Linked DNA regions of Homo sapiens. The protein of the gene in region 3 interacts with the protein of the main gene of each other region in a pairwise test. Each region holds a gene or a part of one and is shown on either strand. Other genes may lie near its edges.

Region 1 (6,974 bases), on a different chromosome or scaffold from region 3:
CCAGCCTGGGCAACAGAGCAAGACCCTGCCCCGCCGCCTGAAAGAAAGAAAAAAGAAAGAGAAAGGAAGAGAAAGAAAGGAAAAGAAAAAGGAAACATACGAGGCTATGGGGCCGTGTACGGGGGCCAGGCTGTGGCAGAAGCATCCTGGCGTGGCCTTCTCCAGCCCCATCCTGGTTGGGTAAGGTGTCGCCGTGGGTCTTCGTGTCACAGCTTCAAGGACAGACCCAACTCTGGTATCACAAACTTAACAGGTAATGGAGTTTCCTAAAGTGTGCTCTGCAGGAGTGCTGGAAGGGCCAGCATGGAAGGACCCCAGGGAGGGAGATTTCTTTGCTCCACAGCATCCCCAAGCCTCACGAGGCCTCTCCCCTCCAAGTCTCTATGTGCATCGTTCTCCAGATGTTGGAGCATCCTGCAGGGGCCAGCCCAGCCTGTCAGGGGCAGAGACCCTGCACTGGCCCCCTCGAGAGTGGACCCCTGGGCTGGCTTATCTGCTCCAGTGCAGTGAGGATCAGCTGGAGCTCCGACCTGACTCACATCTGGATGCGCAGTGAGGGGCCCGTTGGGGCCGTGATACTGGGAGGAAGCCGGGCTCTGTGCTCTTGCTCCAAGTGAGTTGACCAGGGAGCCGAAGTTAAGGTGGCCTGGGAGCCACGTCCTCCCACCTAGCGGCTGGGCTCTCACAGCCACTAGAAACCCATCAGCCTTTCCCCTGGGTCTATGCGGGGCTCTTCAGCCCTCCTGGGAGCTCAGTGGCTGGGATGCTGCTTTACAGACAGTGCACGGCTCTGCCATCTGACAGCTCCCAGAGGGTTCTGGGGGTGACTGTAAAGAGTGGTGCTGGCCCCGAACCTTTCCTGTTCCCCTGGATTTAGTTCCCAGCAGGTGGTGAGGAACTGAACATTTTGTCCCATAGTGGTGGGAGAGAGGGCTGGCCACATGGGTCCAGGCCACCCCCTCAGCCTCCACAGCCTGCCCCGCACCCAGCCACAGGAACAGCAGAGCAGCTCCCCCATCCAGGTAAGCGCCCCCACCACAGCCCCATCACAAAGGAATAGCCTCCTGGTGTAGTGGGAGGTGAGGAGCTTTTTTTGTTTTCCTTTTATTTATTTTAGGGACAGGGTCTTGCTCTGTTGCCAAGTTAAGTGCAGTGGTATGATCATGAGCTCACTGCAGCCTTGACATGGTGGTAAAGCCATCCTCCCGCCTCAGCCTTTCGAGTAGCTGGGACTACAGGTGTGTGCCACCATGCCCAGACGCCCAGCTAATGTTTGTATTTTTTGTAGAGATGGGGGTCTCACTATGTTGCCCAGGCTGGCCTCAAGCAATCCTCCCACCTGAGCCCCGCAAAGTACTCGGATTACAGGTGTGAGTCACCGCGCCTGGCCGGGAGCTTTAATTTTTCCTACTTGTTAACAGCGTTATGGGGCTGGAAGGAGGCTCTCAGATTTCCCTGCCCTCCTCACATCCCCCAACCCTCCCTGGGCGTGGGGGTGTCAAGCATGAGTCAGGCTGAGCCTGACTCTGAAGCTGTTCCCAGCTCTTTAGTCTAAACTTCAAATCTTCAACCCTGTTCCCTAATCCAACACATTCCCCAAATGAAGGGACTGGACAGTGAGATATCGGGAAACCCCATGAAAATAGATGCATAATAAAGGTGAAAATCATTTAAAATGTTCCCATTTTTTTTTTTTTTCAAAACAGTCTTGCTCTGTCACCGAGGCTGGAGTGCAGTGGCGTGATCTTGGCTCACTGCAACCTCCGCCTCCCAGGTTCAAGCAATTCTCCCACCTTAGCCTCCCGAGTAGCTGGGATTACGGCTGTGAGTCACCACACCCGGCTAATTTTTGTAGTTTTTGTAGAGACGGGTTTTCACCGTGTTGGCCAGGCTGGTCTCGAACTCCTGGCATCAAGTGATCCGCCCACCTCAGCCTCCCAAAGTGTTAGGATTACAGGTGTGAGCCACTGTGCCCGGCCCCCAGTATTTTTTAAGCTCAAATGATCCCATGTCCCCAAGACTGTGACAAACTAAATAACCAAAAAAGTGTGGCCACGGTCCAGGTGGAAGGGGGCTGCCTGGAGGTACGTTCCCATCAAAACCTGCTCCTGGGCAGGGCTCACACTGCTCACAGCATCAGGGGTCAGCCATCTTCTCTTGAAACCCCGTGAGTTGCAGGAGGCCCTGTTCTGTGCTCCTCATTTCAATCCCGGGATCAGTCAAGTCTGGAGCCAAGGAGGCGGTTCACACGGGTCTTCCCTGGAAGGAGAGGGCGATCCGCAGCAGTTCCTGGCCCAGCTCTTGCTGCCTCCCTCCAGGGCCAAACTCAGCCGACAGCTCCCGGAAAGTGACGCAGACGCGGCGGGCCTCGATGTGTCTGCGGTGGATGGCATGCTTCCACTGGTGCCGTGCCGCCCCGGTGAGGACCAGCAGGGAGCGGGCGGGTAAGGGGATGGCCACCTCCACCTCCTGGCATAGCACCGACCGGCTGGGTGCTATCACGCTGTCCACCAAGGCCTCCGGGGCAGCCGACGGGGCCGAGCAGAGGAGCAGGCTCCCGGGCGCCTCCCGACACATGGACAGCACGGTGGGGGACAGGAGGTTGAGGCTGACCAGCCGCTCCCCCCACAGCCAGGCGTCGTCCAGGTGGGGGTCAATGGCAGAGCCCCGCTCGGGGCAGTAGTCCAGGTTGCACTGCTCGACGGGCCGGAAGCCCTCCAGCCCCGGGTAGAGGCCCATCCTCCGCACCACCTCCCGGCTGAAGCTGGGGAGGCCGCAGAAGCCCTCGGTCTTTAGCTTCTGTTTCCGAAAGTTGACTTTGGGGCCATAGTCCTGAAGGATGAAGACAAAGAGGACATGAGGTGTCTGAGTTTACGAAGATGTCTACCACAGACTAGGTGGGAAGAATTCAGTCATAGTGACCCAGGCAAGCAAAAGCCCCCTGGCTTCATGGAGGTGAAGCAGGAGGAGGCAGACTCAAGGAGACAGAAGTGACAGCAAATGGCCGGGCATGGTGGTGCATGCCTGTAATCCCAGCGCTTTGGAAGGCTGAGGCGGAGGGAGCTCTTGAGGCCAGGAGTTTGAGACCAGTCTGGGCAACAAAGTGAGACCTCCTCTCTACAAGAAATTTAAAAATTAGGCTGGGCATGGTGGCTCACGCCTATCATCCTAACACTTTGGGAGGCCCAGGCAGGTGGATCGTTTGAGCCCAGGAGTTCCAGACCAGCCTGGGCAACACAGCAAAACTCTGTCTCTAGTAACAAAACAAAAATTAGACAGATGTGGTGGCACAGGCCTTAGTTCCAGCTACTTAGGAGGCTGAGGTGAGAGGACTGTTGGAGCTCAGGAGGTTGAGGCTGCGGTGAGTGGAGACTGAGCCACCGTACTCCAGCTTGGGAGACAGAATGAGACACCCTGTCTCAAAATAATAATAATAATAATTATCTGGGCTTGGTGGCACATGCCTTAGTTTCAGCTACTCAGGAGGCTGAGGTAGGAGGATCGCTAGAGCCTGGGGGGTCAAGGCTGCGGTGAGCCAATATCACATATTGCACTCCAGTCTGGGCGACAGAGCGAGACCCTGTCTCAAAAAAAAAAAAAAAACCTGTACACAAATGTTCACAACAGCCAAAAAGTGACAACAACGCCAATGTCCATCGACAGATGAATGAGGAAATGAAATGTACCAACATCCAACAGGATGTCACAAAAGAATGGGGCTGGGCGCGGTGGCTCACGCCTGTAATCCCAGCACTTTGGGAGGCTGAGGCGGGCGGATCACTTGTCAGGAGTTCGAGACCAGCCTGGTCAACATGGTGAAACCCCGTCTCCACTAACAGTACAAGAATTAGCTGGGCATGGTGGTGGGCACCTGTAGTCCCAGCTACTTGGGAGGCTGAGCCAGAAGAATGGCTTGAACCCGGGAAGCAGAGGTTGCAGTGAGTTCAGGTCATGCCACTGTACTCCAGCCTGGGTGGCAGAGCGAGACTCTGTCTCAAAAAAAAAAAAAAAAAAAACCTACAATGAAGGGAGAGGGGGCACCCGGGGATGTTTGGACACAGGTGGGGAAGGAGTTGGAGGGAGCGGCGGGCCCGGGGAGGGGGAAGGTGGGAATGCGTGTGAGGAGACAGGACACGGATGGTGACAATGGGAGGTGGGGGCGCCTGCAGCTTGGGAGAATGGGGTGCCTTCACCACCACCAAGCCAGCTACAGAGGGGCAGAGAGCCCAGGAGCGCATATCACAGGGAGATGGGGTGCCCAGGTGCACCTCTGCCCATCGGACACACGTCCTGCAGCGAGTCTGGCTGCCCACAGCCCCAAGGTCTGGGGAACTCGCCCACTACCAACCCTGGAGGTTTGAGGGGTGTGGCTGCAAGGAGGGGGATGGCCCCCAGCAGTAGGGCTGTCTCCTCAGCGCAGCCCAGCAACCCCCATGAGCTCAGGGCCGGTCTACCTGCTTCCTCCGTCCAGACTGGGAGAGCTTCCAGGGGTCACGGTCCATGAGCCGCACCAACTCGGCTTCTTCCTCCCGGGTCACAAAGTCCTCGATCAGCATCACTCCTGGGAAGGGGAAGGCCCAGCCCTCAAAGTCAGACTCCTCTGTGCCCACGGCCCAGCCGGTGTCGGAGCAGTAAATGAAACGGTATGTTTTCTGCAAAAGAAACACAAGTCCACAGGCTGGGCAACACAGCGAGACCCGGTCCCTACGAAAAGTTAAAACAGGCCAGGTGCGGTGGCTCACGCCTGTAATTCCAGCACTTTGGGAGGCCGAGGTGGGTGGATCACCTGAGGTCAGGAGTTCAAGACCAGCCTGGCCAACATGGTGAAACCCCATCTCTACTAAAAATACAAAAATTAGCCAGGCATGGTGGCAGGTGCCTGTAATCCCAGCTACTCAGGAGGCTGAAGCTGGAGAATTGCTTAAACCCAGAAGGCAGAGGTTGCAGTGAGCCAAGATGGCACCACTGCACTCCAGCCTGGGCGACAGAGTGAGACTCAAAAAAAAAAAAAAAGTTTAAATAAAAATTAGCCGGGTGTGGCAGAGCGCACTTGTCATTTCAGCTACTCAGGAGGCTGAGGCGGGAGGATCATTTGAGCCCAGGAGGTTGAGGCTACAGTGAGCCATGGTCGCGCTACTGCACTCCAGCCTGGACAACAAAGCAAGACCCTGTCTCAAAAAAAAAAAAAGAAAAAAAAAAAAGGAAAGACACATCCTGGAGCCATGGCAGCCCCTGGCACTTGTGTGCCCTCAGGAGACCCTCTGATGGCTCATTCCTCCCCTCAGGACACTGTGGAAGGCAGCTGGAGTCTAGGGGGAGGTGCAGGCAGAGCCTCTGCCCCAGGCTGACCGGGGAAGGCCCGCAGCCCTCTTGAGCTAACACGAATTTGATTGGTTTCCTTTCTCACTTTCCTCCCCTGTAAAAGAGAAGGGTTTGTACAACATGTTTTTCCTTCTCCATTTTACAAAGGAGGCTCAGCAAAGTTAAGGAACCAGCCCGAGGCTGGACAGCACCTCCTGCACTCCCATCTCCTCAGCTGCTTCCAGGAGGCCCCAAACTGCCTGACTACCTTGAATCTGTGCACCCTAATCTCTTTAGGTCTTTGCTGATGCCACCCCGGTGTCCCAGGGGTTGGCCCGTGCCTATCACCAGCGTGAGGGTCACCTAGGAGGGCAGCCAACTTCCCTACAGAGCTGAGCGTTCAGTTGAGCTCCTCAGTGTCCCAACCTCCCTTCTCCTCACTCTTGTCCTCAGGGCACCTTTCCAGACCCAGCATCACCCCTCAATCCTCATACCCTGGGCTGTCACTCAACTCCCACCCCATGTCCCTCTCTGCTCTGCCACCAACCCCGAGGCCTGGCGGTACTCTAAGGGTTCCCCCATGCTAAAGAAAGTCTAGAAACCAGGCCAGGCACGGTGGCTCACACCTGTAATCCCAACACTTTGGGAGGCCAAGGTGGACTGATCACCTGGGGTCAGGAGTTCAAGACCAGCCTGGCCAACATGGCAAAACCCCGTCTCTATTAAAAATACAAAAACTAGCCGGGCGTCGTGGTGCATGCCTGTAATCCCAGCTACTCAGGTGGCTGAGGCAGGAGAATCCCTTGAACCCGGGAGGTGGAGATTGCAGTGAGCCAAGATCGTGCTAGTGGACACCAGCCTGGGTGACACAGTGAGACCCCATCTTGAAAATAATAATAATACTTTTTGTTTGTTTGTTTGTTTGTTTGAGATGGAGTCTCGCTCTGTCACCAGAACTGGAGTGCAGTGGCACGATCTCGGCTCACTGCAACCTCTACCTCCTGGGTTCAAGCGATTCTCCTGCCTCAACCTCCCGAGTAGCTGGGACTACAGGTGCGCGCCACCATGCCCAGCTAATTTTTTTCTTGTATTTTAGTAGAGACGAGGTTTCACCATGTTGACCAGGATGGTCTTGAACTCCTGACCTTGTGATCCTCCCGCCTTGGCCTCCCAAAGTGCTGGGATTACAGGCGTGAACCACCATGCCCAGCCAATAGTAAATTTTTAAAAAAGAGTTTCGCCAATGAAATAGCCAGTATTTGCATCTGTGGCACTGAACATTTTACATGGATTATCTAGTTTCATCCCCAGGACAGCCCCAAGAGGAAGGTACCATAACTATCATGGGCAGGAGGTGTGGAGGTTCTGGCCGGAGTCACCCAGTGAGGACTTCGGAGGCCACCAGAACTCAGCCCTGGGCTCTGTGGCCTGTCTCCTCTTCCTCTTCCATCTCCAGGCTCCTCACACCCTGGGCTGCCACTCACTGTGGGCCGCTGTCTTTCTCTGTTCTTCCCTCCAGGGACCTCAGCCCCTTCCAATGCTTTACTTCCAGCCACCGACTCCAGCTCAGACCCCTCCTGAGATTGGCACTATCTCCTCCTGCTCCTGGGGCCCTCCCACGGGAAACATTAAAACTGGGAGTCCCCCGTGTGTCGGCTGAGCAGGCTGGACTT
Region 2 (7,848 bases), on a different chromosome or scaffold from region 3:
CAATCACTGCCCACTGCAGCCTCGAACTCTTGGGATCAAGCCATCCTCCCACCTCAATCTGCGGTGCTCACCACCATGCCTGGCTAATTTTTTGTAGAGAGAGGGTCTCACTATGTTGCCCAGGTTGGTCTCAAACTCCCAAGCTCTAGCAATCCTCCCAAACAGGCCTCTCAAAGTGCTGGGATTACAGGCATGAGCCACCATGCCAAGCCTGCCTAGGTAGTTTTTATGACCATGAATTTTATGAATGAGAATTTTCTTTTCTTTTTTTTAAGCTTTTTTTAAATCTTTTTGTAATCCCAGGTGCACATATATTTTGTATGAACATATTTAACTATTAAGCCTGGTCTAGAACTTAGAATTTAGAATCAATTCTAGAACTAGAATTTAGAATCAATCATCTGAGGATCCTCTCATAGTGTGCCGACGTCCTTCCTTGATTCAGTGGATACACAACTATGGATATGGATATTTGCCTACACCCAGATGCCGATGGTATCCCAGGATTTAGCTTCCTGCAGTTAGACACTCTCATTATTGCTCTTTTAAGTAGGTGTATGCTGGAGCTACCTACCAGAGCAATGTTGTGTTCTGAGCATAATCTGCTCAGCTAAGGAAAGCATGCGTGACTTCCTTGAGAGCATAGGTGTAAATCCAGCTAGAGATGCTCTCAAAATGCTTCAGAGTCTTAAGACAGAAGGAGGACCCAGGGATTAGATTCAGGCCTTCAGACAGCAACAAAGGAGGACAGCAAACCAAGGGGATGTTCTCTGTGCTTTATGGCAGTGGTTCTCGAGCTAGAGTGGGCATCAGACCCACCTGCAGGGATGATTAACAGGGCCCCACACCTAGAGTTTCAGATTCAGTAGGTCTCAGCTAAGACTGAGAATTTGCATTTCTCACAATTTTTTAGCTAGTGCCAATGCACAGAGCCAATGTTCTATAGCTTCTTTCTTTCTGTTTAACCCTTACTACCAGAAGACTAGGATGGGGATTTAGAACACCATGGCTTTCCCACAGTGAATAAGGCCCAGGCCAGATTGCAGTTACTCACTGTGGCTGCTAACCTCATTCATGGGAGTAAAGTAGGATTTTAATTACCTACCTGTTCCTGAGGCTGCATCTCATTTCAATTTAGATAATCTAGTCAGTGGCTTCCCAAAGCCAGTTAAAGCATCAGTGATACTCTGATTGCATAAGCAAACCCAAGGAATTGTTGAAATTACAAATTCCTTTTTCCCGCCCTAGGACATTTTGAATCAGTAGGTCTGGGATGAGGCCTGGGGACCTGTGTTTTTAACAATCTCCTCTGATCATTTAATCCACTTCCGATTTATCTGTCCACAGGCCTTGAGTCTTCCTTTCCATGGTCACACACAATATGTTTCACTAATGCACATTTATTTTGAGTATGTTTACCCAAAACTTAGACTATGCCCTTGGTCAAGGGATTAGCAACCTTTCAAAAGAAGCATGCCCAGTATTTCTTTATATAGCCTTTCATCATCAGAGGTGGCAATGCTGATGGAATGGCCTTTGGTTTAGCTCTGCAAAAAAGCCCTGTGGGTACTCAGCTCTTCAAAGAAGCTCTGTTCCTGGCATGTTTAGAAGTTACTGTGTGCACATACGTAACCCACTCAGCTGTTCCAGAGGAACAAGACCTTCACCCTTTAGGTATATAGTGTGTGCAGTTGCCCCACCGTGGGGGTTGGCAAAAAGTGGGGAGGGCCCTTGCATAAGCTCATTGATAAGTTCAGTCATTTACTCACCCAACCAACAATCACTGGTTATGTGTTCTGAGTCAGGCATGGAGGTATCTTCTCATAATCAAAAGATAAGCAAGAAACAGTTAACTGCCCGCAAGGATTCCACAATTTTGAATCCTAACTTCAGATGCTATCTCCTTACCTCATTTGGCACGTGCATTTGTGCTGGTATACATACCTTTTTCAGCACATAAACTCATTTGGCACATGTGCCAAGGATTGCCAACTATCTTATACACACAACCACACACACACACACACACATACACAGCCTTAAAACAAAAAAAAAAAAACACCAATATCCATGTTGAGTTACTAACTCTAGCATCAGCTGCAAAATTTTATTTTAGGTTGCAGTTCACGCAGTTGTCTTTCAAAAATTTTCGTTATGCTGTTGTTAGTTCTCTGTGCTGGATTTGGTCCACAGTCCATTGGAGGAAAAAACAATTGTATTTATTGTTGTGTTTGGGAGAGGAAAATTCCTCTTTTTATAGAGGTATAAACATATATTAGTTTAAAATTTTGTGTCTAGTATGTAGTCATTAATACAAAACTAGACACATTATTGTTTATAATTATTTGTTACACTGGATCTAAATTCAAATATTTTACATTTATATACAACGGGTTGCTTTATATTAAAATTTATGTGATGCTCCTGTCTTCTCCAGTTTAAGTCAGTCATCAAAGGATGCTCAATCTAGCTATATTTTTTCTTGCACTAAATATAGTGAATCATAAAGTTCGAAGGTGTTACCAGCCCTCTTTGCTTTTAAGAAAGAAAAGATGCACTGTGGAAATGCTGTCTCTCATTTTTAAGGTCATTGATTGGGTTAAAAAGGCAAATGACTTTTTTCATTGAACTTCCTTCAATTAAGCCATTAACCTTTTAAAATAAGTGCATTCAAAAATCTATCAAAAAAAGCTAAATGAGATTTTAACAAAATCCTGACAATTTCAGCTTAAACATATACACAGAAACCATATGTGCTTAGAAAGAAATATATACACACAGGCATTGTTTACAGAGTGTGTTTTTATATTTGGAAGACACTGAAGGAAGAGTTATTCCATACATACATTATCTGAAATGTACATTCAGATAGCCTACATAGATTTCATATTACACACAAAGATATCTTTATCCATGGTAGGTAGACAGACAGACTGACTGACTTCAAACTTGCACTTGCAGTGTGGATTTTTTTTCCTCATCTCCGGGTACTGCTTTTCAAAATTGCCTCAGGCTACAGAACAGCACCTCAGATCCCCAAGGCCCACTGCCTGGCTCCTAATAGCCACTCTCCATCTGTGTCACATGAACAGCTGATGAGATCGCTCCAGTGTCTGTATTTTGGAGAGCACATCCACCCAGGTTAAAATGCTAGGGTTGCCAAGGAGCAGTCAGAAGCCATTAGTGTGGGTGAGAATTTGCCTTGCAGCAGTTCCTTGGCATGGTGGAAAGCGTGTGCACGTGTCCCTGCACGAGCTTGGGTGTGCGTGTATGTGTGTGTGTCTCCTTGTCCAGGCGACACTCCGGTGTACATGGGTGTGCAGGGAGGGTGACAGATGAAAACTAGACTGTATATTATCCAGTATTGAAAGAGTCAAATGCCTTTTGTTTCACTGTATACTGATTCGGTCTTTGACTATATGGGGTCCCTTTTTTCTTATCATAACAGAAGGCAAAGAAAAAGAGAACAGCAACTTCGGGGTCATGCTCTAGTGTTTGGGCAGATGGAAGGGAGCTGCTTTGCCTTGGGGCAGGGTGGTTGTAATGAAGTGGCCTGTCAGTCTGTAAATAGTGAGGGTCATCTCTTCCATGTGATGGAGGGTATCGCATTGCAGTGAAAATGGAAATGTCAATAAAATTAATCTGCCAGCTCTTTGCTGTGGCTTTTCTGCTTCTCTAGTCAAAGAAAGTTGAGGGTTTTTTGGCAAGAAAGGAAAAGAACAGGTACAGGGAAGCCCACAGAGCAGACCCAGAAGTTAGAAGGCAAGTGGCCCAGTGGGCAGGATGGCTGTGCTGTAGCATAGTCCGAGAGGAGGGAGCAGGTCTGGGAATGAGCTGATGGATCTCTAGTATTCCTCAGAAAGCTACAGAGCATCCAGCTCAGGCTACATTGAGCACAGAGTTTATTGTTTTAGGCTTTCTTGGACAAGGTTTTTACTTAGCATGGGATTTATGGCATTTACTGCTAATGAATGTCTATTCTTAAATTACAAAAACCCCCATCTCAGTGCAATTCCCAGATGTCCTTCCAGGACCCTGGCTTCTTAAACACCAGCAGGGAGCATAAACTCTCCACTTCTCTGTTTTCCTCTTTCGTGTGGCTCCAGGCTAATGATGTGCAAGGAAAACACAGCCATCTATAAAGCCCCAGTGCTGTCCCCGTATTCTTCATTTATTTTGCATTTGATTATGCCACAAGTCGGATCTTGTTTCTTTCCTTTTTTTAAAGTTATTAGTTCAAATATTAATGTAGGGATATGGCATATATTGCTGCTCTTGATTGATGCCTTCCCAAAAACAGGAAGACGTGCTCGTATGAATTTTAAGAAAGTAGGGGTCCTGCAATGCCTTGCCAGAAGAGTTTTTCAGATACATAATTTAGATGCCCTCCAGGCAGGCTTTCAAGGCATTTTTGCCAGAGGGCAAGAAAAAATAACTATGACTGTTAAAAGTAAATGATTTTTGCTAATGCACAATTAATGCCAGAGAAAAGCACAGAAGAGAAAGATGTTGATAGAAACTTCTGATTAAGTGAGCACCCTACCTTGATGTGTATCTTTTTTTTTTTCATGATAATGATCAGTGGTGCAGAGAGCTAAAAGTTTTCATGTCATGCAAATGCCGAGTGCAGGGTCATATGAGAAGTGTGCGAATGTGCGTGCTTAGGAGGTGACAGCTCTAGGAGGGGCTGAGCAGGCAGTGCGTTATGTGCAACGAACAGTGACACAGTTACTGTCACCTATGCAGGCAGCCTAGAATATATAGACTACAGAACATTTAACTTGATTACCCTACAGTATGTGTTCACTCTGGGCATGGGGATGCGTTTCCACTGAATAGGTTTTCTGATGGCGGTTTTCCCACATTGGATTCCATAATTGACAAAGAGCTACTGCACTGTGTCAAGTGCACAGTTATAATTGAATTAATGATATGGGCAAGTGTGAGACACACAAAATTAACATTTGAAGAGGCCTGGTTTAATTTTGTCTTTTACATATTTGTGTCTCCAATTATACTTTAATGAAAGAGAATATACTCGCTTAATGGATTTCTTTCAACAAGCTTAGCTGAGCTCATCATTAGCTGCACTTGTTGTTGGCACCTTGCGATGTTTTCTCTAATGTATTTTTATTTCTTTCTACTAGGGGATGGTTTAGACAACAGTGTAGCTTCACCTGGTACAGGTGACGATGATGATCCGGATAAGGACAAAAAACGCCAGAAGAAAAGAGGCATTTTCCCCAAAGTAGCAACAAATATCATGAGAGCATGGCTCTTCCAGCATCTCACAGTAAGTCAAGATGAAAGAGAAAAAAAAAATAGTTTTTGTTGTTTTGCTAGCAAGTTATACGGTCTCATACTGATTTTTTTTTAAACTAAGGTGCCTATTTTCTTATTCTTGAAATCTGATGACTAACAGACTAGTTAAAGTTTTTTTTTTCATCAACTATTACCATCCAAAGAGCACCCTCTAGAAAGTAGCAGGTTTTTGTTTTAAGAAGCTGGGAATGGACTTTATTTAAAATGATCTAAGACCCTAAACAGCATATATAAGTAAATTTGTTATTTATGCTAAAAGTATGAGAGCAACTTCGGATACTGCAACAGCAACCAAGGGAAATGGCTGTAAGGAGCTCACAAATCCATAAACGTTGCTGATTACACTGTTAACGAAAGCTGTCTCCTCTAGGAGGCCAAAAAAAAAAAAAAAAAAGCACCTTGCCACATGCATGTCCAAGCTCACAATATCAGGTGCAGCTTTAATTGCTGAAGCAGTTTACAAATATGTCATGTATTTATATGACAAATTCAGAAGGGTTATAGGTGCTGTAATGCCTTTGTTTGCAAGGTGGACATTAAAGATTCTTTTTTTAGCTGCTCAAGTCCATTATCTTAAAAGCTAACCATGTTCACTTCTGGAAACGGTTTTACTATGTGAGACATTTTAAAAGTAACAATTTATCTTTATCTTCCTGTTTGCAATCCTTGTATGTGTGGATACATACTGTTGACTCTAAGACTCTTATGACAAAAAAATTACAATATATTTTTACAGATAAACTAGGCATGCTTATATTTTACTGTTCATTTGGAAATTCTGGGAAACCAGTAAAAATTTCAGAGGTTGCTTCTTGCTATAATATTGTTTTCAGGCCATTCTATTTAGGCTAATACTTAAAAATAGAGTAGCACATTGAAAGCTGAAGGTCTTCTTTGATTATCCAACTTGTGTGTTGCCATGCTGAATGACATTAGTTACAGTGTCATGGGTCCAGGACAAGGTTCCACTTTTATTTATGGTGGTGGCTGCTGATGGGCTCTTCTTGCAGAGCTACAAAGGGCAAGGGGTGGAGCAGTGGTGGGGAGGGAAAAGTGATAGATTCACATTCCTAAATCGGCCATTTTGATGTAAGGACATTAGTAGCAAACTAAGGTGTATCGATCTGGCCTGTGGTGTCAGGATTAGCTGGGAGAACCAATGAGGCAGCTGTGGTAGTGGTTATTCTTGCCTTGCAGCTATGGCCATTTCAAAGGTCAGGGCCCTGCACTGACTCGGCTCAGAGGAATTAGACAGAACATGCGGTCTCTGGACTGATTACTTAACCAAAGACAAAATAATGAGTCCTAAGCAAATACTGACTAATTGAAAGGGCTGTAAATCCATTACATATTGGTCAGGGATAATCAGGAGTATTTAATCACTTTTATCTATTCAGGAGCACTGAAGCTGCAACAGCAAAGCCCTGAACCTTGCCATGTGGTTATTATTCTCATCATTATCAAAATTACTTCACAGCTGTTCTTTGCTACATCACCTCAGCTGGAGATTTACTAACCTGTAAAATGTTTTTAATTTGGAAGTCGAGTGACTGTGAGGGGAGGGGTTTCTCATTTTTAAATGAAGGTTTGTTTGGTTAGAGTAGCAACTAAGAACGGCAGTGTAGCTGCGGATGACAGGCCAGCTGCCTTCTCCTGACCAGCTCACCTGTTTGGTTCCCTCCCTCTGTCCTCCTCCATGCTTGGTCTTTCTTGGTCGAAAATAAACACTTCAACAGCTGCTTTCCAAGCAAACAGCTACGTGTGTTTTCAACCTCTCTGTCATCAAAACCAATGTCAGAGAACAGTAGAACCTTAGAGAATGCAGCTGCTCTGTTTATAGATGAGGAAACAGAGACCCAAAAAGGGAAGTTACTAGCTGAAGGTCAAGCTGAGACAAGGGCCCGAGACTTCCAAGTCCCCAACTCTGTGATTTTTCCACATTACAATGACTTTGCCAAAATGACGATCACCTTTAACAGTTGCATAGAAATCTCACAGTCTCCACCATCAATACGCTCAGAGTCACAAGGGAGAAATACGGAGAAGCCAAGTGCTGTTTTCTTTTCTTGTTTTGAAAGCTCCGTGTTACCCAATATAGAAAGCCTTACCACCTGTATTTTGTGAGTTGAATCTCACATGGGAGTGTCAGGAGCCCTTAATACCTTATCTCCCACCTCCCTGCCCAGGGCGGCACCCAGCATGCACCATGGCCACCGATTAGAGTTGTGGGTGGCTGGTGATTTCTGGGCACTTGTTGTACCTCTGCTGTGCTACGAACTAACAGTAAGAGCTTGTAGTCACCTCAAGAATGCTTTCATCTAGTTGAATGTATGCAAGGCTTTGTGCAGAATTCTCTGTCCGACTCAAATTTTTAATGACTGCCTGTCCTCCAGGTTGGGAGAGAGGACTCAAATAGCCTAAGCTGGGGGAGTTGGGAAGTCTGCATTCATGCTCTGTGATCCTCTGTACTGGCTGAACCTCAGTTAAGTCCATTAAGTTCCCTGGACTTTCTGTTTCCCCATTTTT
Region 3 (6,974 bases):
AAACTGACTATGGTGACTCAGCCCCAACAATGCCTGTGGCCAGAGGTGCCCCCTCGGACACTGGGGGTGGGTTTCATATTGGATCAAGGACAGGAAGGGAGGCTGGGTGGAGGCACACGGTGAGATTTGGTGAGAGGCATTAGAGAGTAAGGAGGCCTAAAAGTTTTCATTTCAGCTGCAGTGTGAGCCAAGCTACTTGGCCTCTTTTGGCCTGTTTCCTTTCCAGGTGAGGAGGCTGAGTTCTTGGAGGTATAGCTATGGGGATGTGGAGCATGAACTGTAGGGGCCCGGCCCTGGGAAGGAATGGTGGACAGATAACCCAGTAAGAGAAGCCTGGGCCTGGGCTAGGGCAGTGGCTTCACCCAGAGGGGAGATAAGAGATTCAGATGATGTTTAGGAGGCAAAACTGATAGCACTTGATGGGACTGCTTTGGATGAAGGCGCCAGAGCCTCCCTCAGCTGTCCTTTTTCTGTAACCACAAACCACCAAGTGCCCCTTGGTTTCCCATCTGACAAATCCATCTTTTAAGAAAGCTCAGGGCGCTGGGTTCAGTGGCTCACACTTGTAATCCCAGCACTTTGGGAGGCTGAAGCAGGCAGATCGCTTGAGCCCAAGAGTTCAAGACCAGCTTGGGCAACATGGTGAAAGCCCGCCTCTACAAAAAAATACAAAAATTAGCTGGGAGTGGTGGTGTGCGCCTGTAGTCCCAGCTACTCAGGAGGCTAAGGTGGGAGGATCACTTGAGCCCAGGAGGTGGAGGTTGCAGTGAGCTGAGATTGCGCCACTGCACTCCAGCTGGGTGAGAGACTGTCTCAAAAACAAAAACAAACAAAAACAAAACAAAACAAACTCGGGCCTTGCTTGCTCTGAGATGGGCAGAACATGGGGCTTGGTGCGTGGGCTATGGAGCCAGAACAAGTGCCAAATGTGAGTTCTAACTCTGCCTCTCACCAGCTCTGTACCATCGGCCAAGGTACTTACCCTCCTCAGCTTCCCCATCTAAGATGGTGCTAACAACAGGGCTCACCTCACGTGTGCTGTGAGGACCGAATGCCTTAACAAACATGAGCAGCAGGCACCAGCCACACAATAGATGTCAGCTTTATTGCGCGGATGGCTCAATGGATTTCAACTCTGAATGGCCTCACTGTGCTCCCACATCACACACTTAGGGTGGGTGCTGAAGTTGCCACTTAAAGCTCCCCAGCAGCTGTGAGACCCTTAGGGCAGACCCCTGTCAGATCAGCTGTAAGATGTACCATAGGTTTTTCTTGACTACTGAGAACAAATTTAGCATCAACTTGGGGAGACGCCCAAGGGACTCACTGGCCCAGGACAGTCCTCTGTGCCTCCCTCCCCAAGAACCACTCAGTCTAGTCACCTAAGACTTTTTTTTGGGGGGGAATTTTTTTTTTTAATAGTTATTGAGTGTTCTACAGCTTACAGTAAATACCATAGTTACAAATTCTTGGCTTCAATCTTTCAGAGTGATCACTGTCTGATCTTCAAAACAAAACAAAAACCCAAAAGAATCCAAAACAACAAAACAAAACCAGATTTACACTTCATACACACAGGCAAGGCCATGGGGCTTTCCAATCTTTACACTCCGGACTGTGTTTTGAAAACACCTATAAATTCTTTGATCAAACTACTTGGAAGACACTGGTCAAAGGTTTATTATTATTATTATTATTATTATTATTATTTTAAATTTTATTTCTTTTTAAAATGTGAGTTCCAATAAAATTTAAAAATTAGATTCCAACCTGTAGATTAAAATGAATTAAAAAATACAAAATCATATACAACGCTCTCTTCACAGGGATGTTACATGCCATGAGAACAGGTTTCTCTGTCATGTGATATGAAACAGGGAAGCAGATGCCTTTAAGTCAGGATGGGGACAGGCCCTTGGGCCTTTCAAGATTATTACAGACAACTCCAAGTAGCTAGAGGCCTGGCCTTACCCCCCCTGGGTAAGGAGGAGCTTGAGTCACACCATAGATCCAGACTATCTGGCTGACCCGAGGAGAAGGTCTCTGGGACAGTCTCCTCTCTTTCCCTGACTCTCTTAGGCCTGAGGAGAAAGGCTGGGGTCTGGAGATGCTGGTCTTGCTGGGGTCAGGCCCAAAGCTGATCTCACCCATTTGATTCCTATGGGCCGGTACTTTGCAAAGCTGTTACATCTGTTCTCCTTAGGAAGGAAAATCCCCCTGCTATCAGTGGCTGGAATGGGTAGAGGACCTCTACCACAGCAAGGATATCCAGGGACTATCCATGTGGCCATAGGGAAGCAAGTGCTGTTTTGTCCCTTTCTAGCTTTGTGGCAGCCAGTCCCAACTCCTGTGTGCCTCGGTTGGCCTTTGGGTTGGACTCAACAGCATGCACCACAGAAGATATCCACTGGAGAGACTGAGGGACTGGGACCCAAGTCTGGCTTAGGCAGGGCTGGCCATGGAATGTTGAAGCTGGCCTGCCAGGAATTTTGAAGGCTGGGTCCTGGAACCATATAATGCCTAATTTCAGAAACGAGGAGTTTTCTAGGAAAGGGGCAGATAAGTAAAGGACAAACCCTGCAGCCCCCTTGGCATGCCTGCCTGTGCGCTCAGAGGCTCCGGTGTGGAATCCCATCAGTTAGTCTGGCGTGTTTCTTCAGCTCTGCGGGTGGGTCCCAACTGGCCCACTCTACTACTGCCCCTCTCTGGATTCCCAAGCTTGGCAAGCAGCGGGGGCCGCACAGCCAGTAGTGATGTGGGAGAATACAGGATGGAAAAGCAGACTTCCACGTATTTTCACTTAACTGCAATTGAGGAGGAATTCTGATACAGATGGTGATATATAAGACAAAGTTCACAGGGCCCAGAATGGGGCCCACCCCCTCTGGGCACAGAACAAAGCTGAGGAATTTGATATGGAAGCTCTGAGCCTCGCTTAGTCAGTGCCTCGCTGGGAACCTGGATGAGTCCTATCTGTATGAGGAGCCAAAACTTGGTGACCAAGGGGCCTGTCCTTTTATACTTCATGTGATTCCTTTCTGAAGGCCATCAGAACAAAGCAAGCCCTCCAAAGAAGGACCCCCAGATCTCTGGGAACGGGGTACCTCAAACTTGGAACAATTCGGGTGGCCAGGGGTAAGGATGCTCAGAGTCTGGTTCTGGTCCTCACCCATGGGAAAAGCAAGCCCAGGGACTTCAGTCTGTACGTTTTGTACCAACTCACTGGATCTGGACAGTGGGCAGGCTCTCAGGGATTAGGAAGCCAGGTGTGCAGGCTTACCAAGGACATGGGTCTCCCAATAGAAAGATGCCTCGTGCTGTCCTTGAACATGTCTTCGGTCCTGGGCATTGTGACCCCAAAGTGTTTTGTCCAAGTGAGGCCTTTAGTTGCAAATTCTCATCCTCCTTGTGCTGCCAGTTAGATGTGCCTCTGGGTCCCTCCCCAGGGCTCATTACAGGTCCTGGCCCAAAGCAGTTCATACAAATCTGCTCAGCTCAGAGACTGGGCTTCCCAGCTCTATAAAGTACAGTTAGCCCCTCCCTCCATGCTTGCCAAGAGACCCAGCAGGTGGCAGCAGAAAGAGCAGAGGATTTGAAGAATCACTTCCAAGCTGTGTGACCTTTTAGCAAGTCTCAAGCCTCCTGAGCCTTAGTTTTTTCATCTATAAAATGGAGGACTTTGGCAACCAATGTCAAAGTACTTTGCATACCAAAAACGCTCTGGACAGGTGTGTGTGTCTCTGCTAAATATTCAGGAAAGAGGATATACATTTTAGGGTCATTGCCAGGTAAGAAAGAACAGCAACTGTCCTATCTCATGAGGAAGAAATTAAATATGCATTTTTTTTCAAAACATGGCAAACCATTATGTTTCAGGCTTTCACTATTTGCAGGCAATCCAGCTCCCAGACTCAAACTTCTTGACCCCAGGCCAGTGAGGAGAGGGGGTCAGGTAGAAGTAGAAGAATTCAAAAGGGTTGGCTGGTAACGAGCCATCTGTACCCCTGATCCTGGCCATAGGTGTTGCACTTGGGGAGAGGCAGTGGCATGAGGAGGAGAGAGGGGTTTGCATCCTGGGGCCAGTGCTGTAGCTCACTGTCAGGCGGCTACATCCCTTGTCCTCTCTTGCTTGCCTGCCTTCAATGAGACGGCCCTTCCAGCTCTGACTTTTTGTCTAGCTTGACCACCGTGCCATCTAGAATCTTTGGAGGTATCTACCTATGGTACCTCCCACTAGATCTCTGTGACCTTACCAGTAACTGTGCCCATCCTACCAGAGGCACATGACTGTCCCCGCTCTCCTGGGCTCAGTCCTTTTGCAGTGACTCCCCAAGCTTGGCTAGGCTTGTGGATCTCCATCACAGCAAGAGGCTGAGGCCGGCTGAACTGGGGCTCATACTGAAAAAGGGGTGCTGGACCTGGGCTCTTCCAGACCACAGCCTTTCAGTGCCTTATTTTCACCTTGGGGCCCCCCTTTGCTCTTGAATTACATAGTAGGTGCTAAGATAGGGCACAGAGCACAGATGCTTCAGTACGTGAGCCTGTGTGGGGATCAGATGGAGGGGAACGAGACAGCAGACAGCCTGGGATTCGAGTGGCTCTGTCACTTATTAGCAAGTCACTTGACTTTTCCAAGCCTTGATTTCCTTATGGATCAAATAGGAGAAATAACCTCTATTTCATCGGGTTAAACCAGATAATTTATGTTCAACTGTTCTGTGAACTGTGAGGTCCAGCTGTTAGTTTTACTTACTGGTGTTGAAAGAACAAAAGTTACAAGGTCATTCCTAGGTCTCCTCTTCTTCCTTTCTCCTCTCTGTGGTTCCACCCCAGCCCACATGGAGGCAGCAGGGTTCTGGGAAGCCTAGCGGATACCAGCATGCTGCTCACTGTGGGCCTGTTCCCTTCCATAACCTGTTTCCTCATTTGTCAATTGACTGTAATAACTCTAACCCTGTCCCTCTCAGGGCGAGTACATGAAAGGCCGTGAAGTGCTTTGACCTCTGTGATGCACCTGACAAATCCAAAGGTTTCTATTATTATTATCATTATTATTATTTTGGCATTTTTCAAACACGTATGACATAATCTAGAACAACCTTCACCCACCTTTACAAAACCAAAGAGGGTGGAAGGAGGTATTTGCAAAAAGTGAATTAACACTGGAAAACTTTCTATTGTTTTAAAGTGAAACCTCATCAGCACCCAGAACAGATAATTTAGAACAGCTGAATTTTTTCTTACTGGTCCTAAAGTTCCTTGGAAGCCCAGGAAGGTGGGCCCCCAAACTCCTGGCTCTAGGCCAAGGAGGCTGATGGGCTTTACCCTCCTGGGAATGGCTAGACAGCTTCTGAGCTCCTTCCAACCCAAGGGTTTCCTGATTTTTCCCTCCCTTAGGGAGACATGGGAGGTTGGGGTAAGGATATGTCCAAGTTTGCATGAATTTTAAATGAAAGCAGTTTTTTAAAGTCCCAAATGTTGTCAATGATCCCATTTTTTACAATAAAATGTTCGTGCCCCACCCCCAGAGGGGCTGCTGGCCCAGCCAAGCGCTGGGTGCCGGAGGCTGCTGCTGGGCAATCCAGGCTCCTGGCTGAGACTAGCAGGGACCTCCTCGTCCCAGGGGTCCCTCTTCTCCCAGATGAGCCTGTCTCCTGGGCCTCATCCTCATTCTCCTCTCCTGATGACTCCCACTGTCTTCCTCCTCTTCCTCTCCTCTCGGGATGAGGGGCTACTGTCCTAAAAGCATGGCCTCTCCTTTTCGGCCAGTCCACCTGCTCCTTCTCCTGGAGGTGGAGTCAGGTACAGGACGGAAGTTCCAGATGTCTTCACAGAATTTCCAAATGCTATTTCTTCATTTGCAATTTCTGTTCCTGCCATCCGCCCCCATGTAGCCTCTGCCCAGTCTTCAACCCCCGCCTTTGGAGTCCGTGGAGGAAAAGAGCAGAAACAGGAGCCCAGAGACCATTCCAGACTCACCAGGTATGGGCGCTGCCGACTTAATTTTTACAAAACCAAGCCAATCCGTCCCTAGGTAAATTTTTGTAAGCAAGGTGCCCACTAGGTAGGAAGGCTGCATTTAATGCTAATTTACTGTAAGGTCTAGGGAAGTCCTTTCCGCTTCTCTGGGCCTCAGTTTCCTCATCTGCCAAATAGGGAAATGGATGAGATGATTGCTAAGGTCCCTTCAGTTCCATGAGTCTATGAAATGTTTATTGCTATTGCTTTTCCTTCACTATCCTCACCTTCAGAGCTGCCAGCACCCACCTGGAATGTGGTTCCTTCACTTGGGCCATGAATGGCACAGGTAACCAAGAGCTTGGCCTGCCTGCAAGCTCTATGGTCAGACAGGTGAGTCCTGGCACTGGGAAGGGCAAAAGAAAAGGGAGAGAAATGCCCTAGGTTCCCACTCCAATCAGGAGGAAGCTCCTCATCAGAGTGGGTCCATGACAGCTCAGAGGCTGAAGTCTGGATGACACAGGGCATCCGGCCTTCCAAGGCCTCGGGATGCTGGGATCCTACCACCCTGCAGCCGCTTGGCAGGTCTAAGGACAAAATCACCTTTTGAGGAAGTGCCAGGTCAGTTAACATCACTGTGCAAATCAGAAGGTCCAGGGCCAGATGCTTTGGCCAGAGACCTTTCAAACCAAAGCCATGAGGCAAGCACCGCTCCTCCCTTCTTCCCTCTCCTTCCCCACAATGCCCTCCCTCCCCCCACCCTCCCCCAAATTCTAAAGACTTTTTTCCCCAGGTTCTCAGCCTGGGGTATTAAGCTGCTAATAACACGCCTACATACTCAGGTGGTTTTGTTCTTGGTCTGTTGCAATGGTTCTCAGGAGACATTTCATTTGTGTCTGGGACATGGGAATGTCCTGAACTAATCTTGCTTAAGAAAAAACAACCAGAACACTCCCCTAGAGATGTAGCCTGCTCAACAGCTCTGAGTTCCTACCCTGGACCACATCTGTTTATGC
Region 4 (7,848 bases), on a different chromosome or scaffold from region 3:
TTTTGTTTTGGCTTGGGCAATTTGAGAGGATATAATACATGCTGGGTCAGGGCTATATTCAGAAGTGACCATTAATAATGCTGACGTGACCCTTGAAAGCCAACTACACTTCTCTAGCAACTGTATTCCCAACAAGGGATATGGGGAGAAAGTCATTGCCCCCATTTTATGGGTTTAAAAACTGACACCTCTAGAAAGGCAGTAGATAAGACAGCCACTTGGTGACAGAGCCACCCTGAAGCCTGTGAGGGTCACTGCAACCCCCTCCCCTCCAATCCCTCCCTGGGTAGGTCAGCTCACATTTCAGCTCCGGCCCATCCACTTCCACTTTGTTTCGAAGTCTCGGCTGCCCGCTTGGGTTCTTGGTGGCCCCAAGGAACTCATAGAGCAAGTTCTTCTCGGCTGGACATGTAGGTTTCTTGGGCGGCAGGGTCAGTGATGCGGTGCCCACTGCGTCACAGCAACCCTCCTCACCACAGGCGTCCTTCTGGCTCTGGGGCCACTGGCTGAGAAAGAGGCTCCCTTGACCCTTTTTTGGCTCCTTGGTGCCAGGGCTCCATTCTGTAGCAGGAAAGAAACTGAGTCAATGCCTCTGGAAGGCCAAGTGCTGGATGCTGGAAGCACCTTTTTGTGGACTAAATGATGAATCCTCTGCAGCACACACCTGAGGCTTGGACCACTTTGGGGGACTCTCTTTCAGCCAAATACAATCCCAATCTCTCCCTGAAACCCTCCCTGGCCCCTGCCCCCCGATCTCATGCATCCATCAATCCATCCATCTGTTCATTCATCCACCCATCTGTCCATCATCTTTGCCTTTCTTCCTTCTATCCGTCTACTTATCCATCCATCCATCTGTCCATCCATTTGTCTGACTATCCATCTTTATCTTCCTGCCTTCCTTCCATCCATCCACCCCTTCATCCTTCCTTCCATCATTCCTTTATTCGAATTACCTTTCTTTTCTTTCCTCTCCTTCCTTACTTTTCCTCATTCCTTCCACTATTCCTTCTCTCCAACCATCCATAGTGCCAGGCTGCGAAAACAAGGATGTTGTGGACACAGTTCCTGCCTTCAGTGAGCACATGGCTTAGTGAAGGAGTCACACATTCTTACAGAACATGTGGTCTGAGCCACACACTTTGGTCTCTCATTCTGGATTCTACTTTTGTTTTATTACTCACAGGTGATTCAGCTCACTTGTCAGTGCCAGGCCTTGACCTGAGTGCTGGGGACACAGTTGTGAGTCAGAGCTAGACTGTGCCCTGCAGGAGCTCATAACAAGAAAAAAAGAGAGACATGCCCAGAAATAGCCCCAGGATAAGGTAGATGAACACCATGAGGTGGCAGAGGGAAGAAATGGAGAACAGGGTGGCTGAGGCTGCTTCTGTCTGAGAAGGTTCCTTCCAGAAGGAAGTAGGGTTGCAGCGAGGCCTTACATCCAGGGGTATTGGGGAGGAAGGCATGGCAGGCAGGGATAACTGTGGGCAAAGGCCTGGAAGCATCAAGGAGACATTGTGAGTCACTGGATATGGCTAGAGTGTGGAGCAGGGACAAGATTGGTGGCAGACACAGGTTTCTCACTAAAGAGACTGAGCATTTATTCTCCCAATGCAGACATACTTTGGGGACCATCACAGGATCCTCCACAGCAGTGGTGGGAAACCTGGCCACCCACCAGATGGCTGTGCACTGTGCTGCCCAATAGCAGGCACCGGGATCTGTCTGGATGCAGCCAGAAAGGACCTGTGCCTCAGTGTTACCTGTTGATAATAATAGACCAGATCCCACCAGCTTTTGGCCCCCTAGCCCAGCGGCTTGGGGGCTGAGCTTCGGGGCTAAGGCTGTCTTCCTAGCACTATTCCAGCAAAGGAAAGAGCTGCTCTAGCCTGAGCCAATTTAGAAGGAAACAACATTTTTAGCAAAACATCCCTAGAGTCTTTTCCAGGAGTTCCTCCGGTTGCCGAATTCAGCCCCTAGCCTGTGAGCTGAAATAACAGTACCCACTGATAATAGCCCTTTCCCCAGAGACACACACACCTGCAGCTTCCCACTCATATTTACAGATGCCTTAAACATCTACGAAGCTCCCTCGTCCCAGGTCTGGGCACACAGACATAGACACACTCCTATCTGTTGTTCCTTTGACTTAGTTACACATACACAAGTACATACATGACAGACATATGCACAAATGTGTACACAGACATGCTTAGACACACCACTCTTGCATTTTCTCTAACAAATACACTAAAACCTTCAAAACTCCTTTTGGCACACTTTTGCTCACACATTCGTACACACAGACATGCACCAATGGTGGGTGGGGTGGGTGGGACCAGAACTGCCTCCAGTCCAGCAGCCCCATCCAACAGGGAAATATCTATGGGTCCCTTCTGGAGAAGAGGTAGGAGGAAGGTCTCCTCTCTGGGAAGAGCTCAACCGTCTCTCTCCTACAGCTCCCCATCCTAAAGCCCTCTGGCTCCTAGAAGCCTGTCCAGGACCCAGAGTTCAGCTTGCTATCCACAGCTCTGATTCCTTGGCCTTCCTGCAATGCTCCAGGACACAGAATGTTCAGGATGACTTTGCTCTTATTTTCTCAGGTAGATTAATTTGGACCCTCCCAATACGGGTGTCTCTCAGTTATCCATCCATGCTCATAGCCCAGAGGAAATTGTTCTTTTGGCTAACATGAGTATGATCACTCTCTTAGTGACTGCTGACTCTAGGCAATGGCCATGGCCATCAGCCTACCTTCTTGGAACCATATAGTCTGACTGGTTAGATCAGAACAACACACAGAATCCTGGGCATAAAGTAGGAGAAGCTTGGGAGGTGGCTGGCTTTCCTGGGAAGAATGTGAGCTCCTCAATAAAGTAAGTCCCAGGAAACAGATCCCAGAGTCAACAGTCTGCACTATGCCTGGATAATTTACGCATCTACCCAATACCCCAGAGAGGGAGGACCAGGCCTCATGTCCTCAAGGTACCTCCATGAGATAGATGCCAAATGACCCCAGCTACCAATCAAATTTCTCTTCTATACATCTTGGCATCTCCATGCTGTAGTTTCACCCTGAACCCAGCTAGGGTAAACACTTCCTTCAATGTACTCTGGACACCCGTTTGATTCCAAAGTTAAGCCAATTACTACATGGCGCCTATTTCTCTTCTCAAAGTATGTTGAGATCAGGGCCTCTGGGTTTGCTTACAAAAGCTGTGCCCTGCACAGGGGAACCCAGCAAAATAAGCCTGTGGGGGCTGGAAACAGCCCGTCCCTCGGGGCTGTGCCCACCAGAGAGGCTGCTTTGTCTTGCTTTGCATGAAGATGCTTTATGTACATGCTGCAGCCCTGATTGGCTTCCTGGGAAGGACCTCCTCCTTGCAGGCCCACTCTACCCCAGTTCCAACCCCACTCACCCATCAAGTGGTGCCTCTCCACAGCAGGGTCAGCCTTGGGCTTGGAACAGATCTTGGCAAACACTGGGAGCTGCCTCTTCTGAGCAGGGAGCTCAGGGAGCTTGTCAGGACGTGCAGGAGGAGGTCGGGGAGGCAGCAGCAGAAATGGGCTCAGCCCTGTGGGCTCCTTGGGTCCAGGGCCACTGAACAGGTTGTCCTGTAGGAAGTCCTTGGTGACCCTTGTCTTGTCCAGCACATTCTTGTTGTCAGGGACCTTGGATGTCTCAGTGGACTTCAGTGGGAACTGGGACAGAAGCTTGCTGACTTGCAAGTTGGAGTCACCTAGGATGCGGCCCCTGTCCTCTGTCCCCTTGCTGCTCTTGACCTCGGCGGCACACAGAATGTCTGTGACAGTAGAAGTGGCAGAATCACAGTCCTGCCTGCTGCTGATAACGGGCATGGCCACCTTCTGCTTCAGAAGCTTGTCTCCGACAATGATGGAGGCTCTGGGGCGCTCATTACTGCCTGCCACTAGAGGAGGGGCAAGAATGCAGGGAGCCAGCTCTCTGGTCCCCTCGGGAGAGCTGCCGGGTACCTCCAGCTCCCCAGAACTCTCTTCGACCAGGATCGAGTGCTCTTTGGTGAGGCTTAGGAACTCCTGTTCCACCAACAAGGAGATCTCATCTTTGCCACTGCTGAGCTCCAGAGCTCTGGAAATGGGTCAGAGAGACAGACGGTGTTAGTGCCAGCTCACCAAGGCGTGGCTTTGCAGAAGGACATAGGCCCCAGAAAAGGGAGATGGATGCATAACATGACAAAAACACACTTCCAGGCAAGATAACCCAGCAGACACACTGGACCCCCAGAGGGTCCTATACCACAGCGGTAGGATGCAGCACTGAGAGCATGGTTTTGAAAAATGGGGAAACCTGGATCCTCTCCCAACAACCTTGCTGAGTGAGCTGGGGCAAGTCACAGCCTCACTGAGCCTTAATTCTAGTCCATTCCTCCTTGTTCTTCATGCTCAGAACCTGAAGCAATGAAAGACCAGAGAAGGGGTTCACTGGGGAATTTTGCCCAGCAGCAAAGGGGTCAGGAGCAAGCCAACAGCTCTAAGTGCAGAGTCTAGGGTGCTGGGGCTGAGCCCTGGGAAGCCCCCAGGAGAGTAGCGCAGCCCCCATCACCTCACTGCAGAATGGTGGAGTGGACAGCCTAAGCTTACACCCTGATCCAGTCAACTCCCATCGGTGTGACCCTGGGCAGGTTGTTCAGCATCTTGGTATTCTGTCTCCTCCTCTCATTACTAGGAGTATCATAGAGGTGCAAAGCACTTTGAATGGTGTCTGGCATAGAGTAAGGGCGATTCAAAGGTCAGCTCTCATGTTTACACCACTGTCAGCCTTAGTTGGTCCCCGCCCCTGGATCTCATACGGTAGCCTCTTGGATACTCATGTTCACTCTGGCATGGCCTCTGACCCGATCACAGCCTCTGGACTGGGCCTCCCTTCATGTACAGCACCAGCAGTGGGGAGATCCCTGCACTGATCCCTGCACTGATTCACCAGGATCTTCCTGAACCTAAATAATGGCCTCAACCTGCCCCTTGGACCCTGGGTCCTCCGCTGCACACTTGCTGGTCTGCACCTGTCTGATAGCACCTGATGGTCTCCTGGCTTTTAGGCTCCTCGTTGCCACTTCTCTCCAGGTGTAGAGAGGATTGCAATCCTACTGGCCTGGCTGGTGGCCCCGCCCACCTCACCAGCACTCTTGGCAAGCAGGCACCCAGGAGGACAAGAGCCACCAGCCTAGAACCATCTGCTGTGCCTACTCAAGGGGCTCCTATGAGAAGTGGATGAGGTGGCCCACACCAAGCATTCTGGAAACTACTCAGCCTTCTATCATGGGAGCGCTGAAGGAGAAGATGATGAAGACCCAAGGGAAAAAATCAAGGAGTCCCATAGGGGAGCTCAGCTGCTGTGGCTTAGGCTTTGCAGTCTGGAGGTCCAGCACAGGTTCCAGCTCTGGCCAGCCTCTCAGAGGGCATGATGAGTCTCCAAAACGGTGACCATGGAATGCTTCCAGCAGGGTCCATGCCTTCCTGGTAATGCTTATTGTGTACAAACGCACACACACACACACACACACACACACACACCCACGAACAGAAACAGGCAGGCACACAATTCACATGTCACCATACACAGACCCAGGGGAGTAGTCACTGCATTTAACAGTCAATCAGAATGGACACAGTCTACAGTCTTAGAGGCTTCCTATTGTGCCAGACAGGAAACCTTTAGTTGCTGGGTCCTGATGAGTCCTGAGGCAAAGACTTGGTAGCCCAGGGTGCTTGGGGACCCTGGGGAAGAGCTATGTACTAAAGACATGGGAATGTACCAATAGTCCAGCAGCCAAGACAGCCGTACTTCTTGAACATGAGCCTCTCTACCCCCACATGGAACATCACCAGGCTTGGAGGCAGAGAGTAAAGCCTGCAAAAAGCAGACTCCAGACAAACAGACCTGGGTTTGAATCCAGGCACCACTGCTCTTTTCATGTCGGACCCTGGAACCTCAGTGTCCTCCCCTGTAAAATGGGTGTGACACCTAACATCACCTGCCTCATGGGATGGTTGGGAGCATTGGGCGAGGTCACTGGTACGTGAGCTCAGCACAGTGCCCTGTGCACAGGAAACATTCAGTCAGTGTCAGCTGTGAGCATTAGCTAGTGTGGGCTGGTCCCGGCCAGCTCCTGAAGGGCCACTGGAGCTATGTGTGCAGCAAGATCACTTGCTGTTATTTTCTCTTTCCCTCCACTCTCTCTTCTGTCCCCTTTCCCTGACTTGTCACCTATTCCCTTCCTTTGCCTCCTTCCCATGTCTAGACTTAGGCCTATAAATAGGCCTCACTTTCCCGGCTGAGTCCCCTGAGAACAATCAGAATAAAGGGGCTGCCAATCTGCGGTCTCAAGTTTTAGATCCCCCTCCTCTTCTTCCTCTTCATCCACCTCAAAAGGAACAGGTGAGTCTCAAGTCACAGGAGTCAGACTAGTTTTTGCCTCCCCTCCCCAAATACTTTGCAAAGCAAGCCATACACCAATAGCTTCACTGAATTAGAAAGACACAGTACAATTAGGTCAATTTTTAAAAATTGTGATAATGGTATTGTGGTTATGCCTAACAACAACAAAGAGTCCTTATCTCTTAGCGATACATACTATTTACAGAGAAAATTATGCCGGGGAATGCCTTTAAAATTAATCCAGCAGGAGGAGGGAAAAGAAGAGAGAGGGAGTAATAGATGAAACAAGATTGGCCATATGTTAATCATTGCTAAAGCCAGGTAATGGTTACATAGGGTCATCACACACTAGTCATTCTATTTGTCTGTATTTGCTTTCTGCTTTATTTTATACAAATATTACACGCACATACTCAAAGTAGCTTCTAGAAGCCCCACAGGGCCCTGAGATCCCTGTACCAAAAATCACCCCATGATGGTCCCTTCTCAGCACCTGGGAGGTCACTCCTGCCCTCCCCAACCTGAAGCCAGGCTAGCAGACAGGAACTACCAGGGGCTGAGTGTGAATCCCTGCTCTGCCTCTCAAGAGCTGCCTTCTACACCTTGTATTCCTCATCTGTCAAGGTCAGACTGTGAGCATTCTATAAGTTGTACAAAACACTTAGCACAAGCTGGGTGCATAGTGGGCCCTCGAGAAATGCTCACAGCATAATTATTATAATGTAATTATCAATGTTTAGATCTTAGTTACGATGCACCCATATGTGCCTCTGCACAACTTTTCCTCACAGGCATCCAGAACAATGAAGAAAGCATCTTCCCCATTCATTCCCACACTGCAGCCTTTGTGGTGTTTAAGGAAACACTCATGTCCCCCCCAGCTGCAACCACCTCCTTGTCTCCATTCTGAACTCACGGTGGGTTTCAGGGGATATGGCCTCCAGAACCAACCCCTCCAGGCCATTCTCCTCTACATACCACAGGAATCAATGAGGCTCTTAGAAAGCTGGCATTGGTGTGTCAAGAACATATGGGCCCGCCCCAGCTGTGAGCCCTGCTACGTGCCCTTGAAAGGTTGCCGCAGGATATCCATTCTTCTCTTGCCAGCCTCTACAATTAATATTTCCCTTGCATTTGCCGTGAGCCTACTATGGGCCACACAGGAAGCCAGTCATCCATATATGTGTTCATATTTAATCCTACCCATATGCCTGGGCAGTAGCCTGGATCATCCCCACTTTACATATGGGAAGAATGACCCTGAAAGGCTAAGGGCCTTGCCACAGAGGGAAGAAGCTGATGTAGGGACTTGGCTGGGTCCAGCTGCCTCCACTAATTCCTCCCCACCCCCAGCCTGGGCTTCCTTTCAGGAGATTGTTATCCAGCAAGGTCTCCCTGATCCCTGGCCAGGCGTTGTTCCCCAATCTGAA

What was found.
Region 1: the proteins of FAM168A (region 3) and ALKBH4 interact in binary tests that used the Homo sapiens proteins (3 or more experiments, as listed by UniProt).
Region 2: the proteins of FAM168A (region 3) and MEIS2 interact in binary tests that used the Homo sapiens proteins (3 or more experiments, as listed by UniProt).
Region 4: the proteins of FAM168A (region 3) and C1orf94 interact in binary tests that used the Homo sapiens proteins (3 or more experiments, as listed by UniProt).

What each region holds. Positions count from the first base shown.
Region 1 is NC_000007.14:102,455,150-102,462,123, forward strand, and holds the end of ALKBH4 (alpha-ketoglutarate-dependent dioxygenase alkB homolog 4), read right to left. Parts: intron 4,653-6,974; coding exon 4,455-4,652; intron 2,833-4,454; coding exon 2,245-2,832; 3' UTR 1,089-2,244; downstream 1-1,088. UniProt on the Homo sapiens protein: Dioxygenase that mediates demethylation of actin monomethylated at 'Lys-84' (K84me1), thereby acting as a regulator of actomyosin-processes.
Region 2 is NC_000015.10:37,034,259-37,042,106, reverse strand, and holds part of MEIS2 (homeobox protein Meis2), read left to right. Parts: intron 1-5,147; coding exon 5,148-5,293; intron 5,294-7,848. UniProt on the Homo sapiens protein: Involved in transcriptional regulation. Binds to HOX or PBX proteins to form dimers, or to a DNA-bound dimer of PBX and HOX proteins and thought to have a role in stabilization of the homeoprotein-DNA complex.
Region 3 is NC_000011.10:73,399,403-73,406,376, forward strand, and holds the end of FAM168A (protein FAM168A), read right to left. Parts: 3' UTR 1,085-6,974; downstream 1-1,084.
Region 4 is NC_000001.11:34,193,485-34,201,332, reverse strand, and holds part of C1orf94 (uncharacterized protein C1orf94), read right to left. Parts: intron 4,109-7,848; coding exon 3,420-4,108; intron 562-3,419; coding exon 301-561; intron 1-300.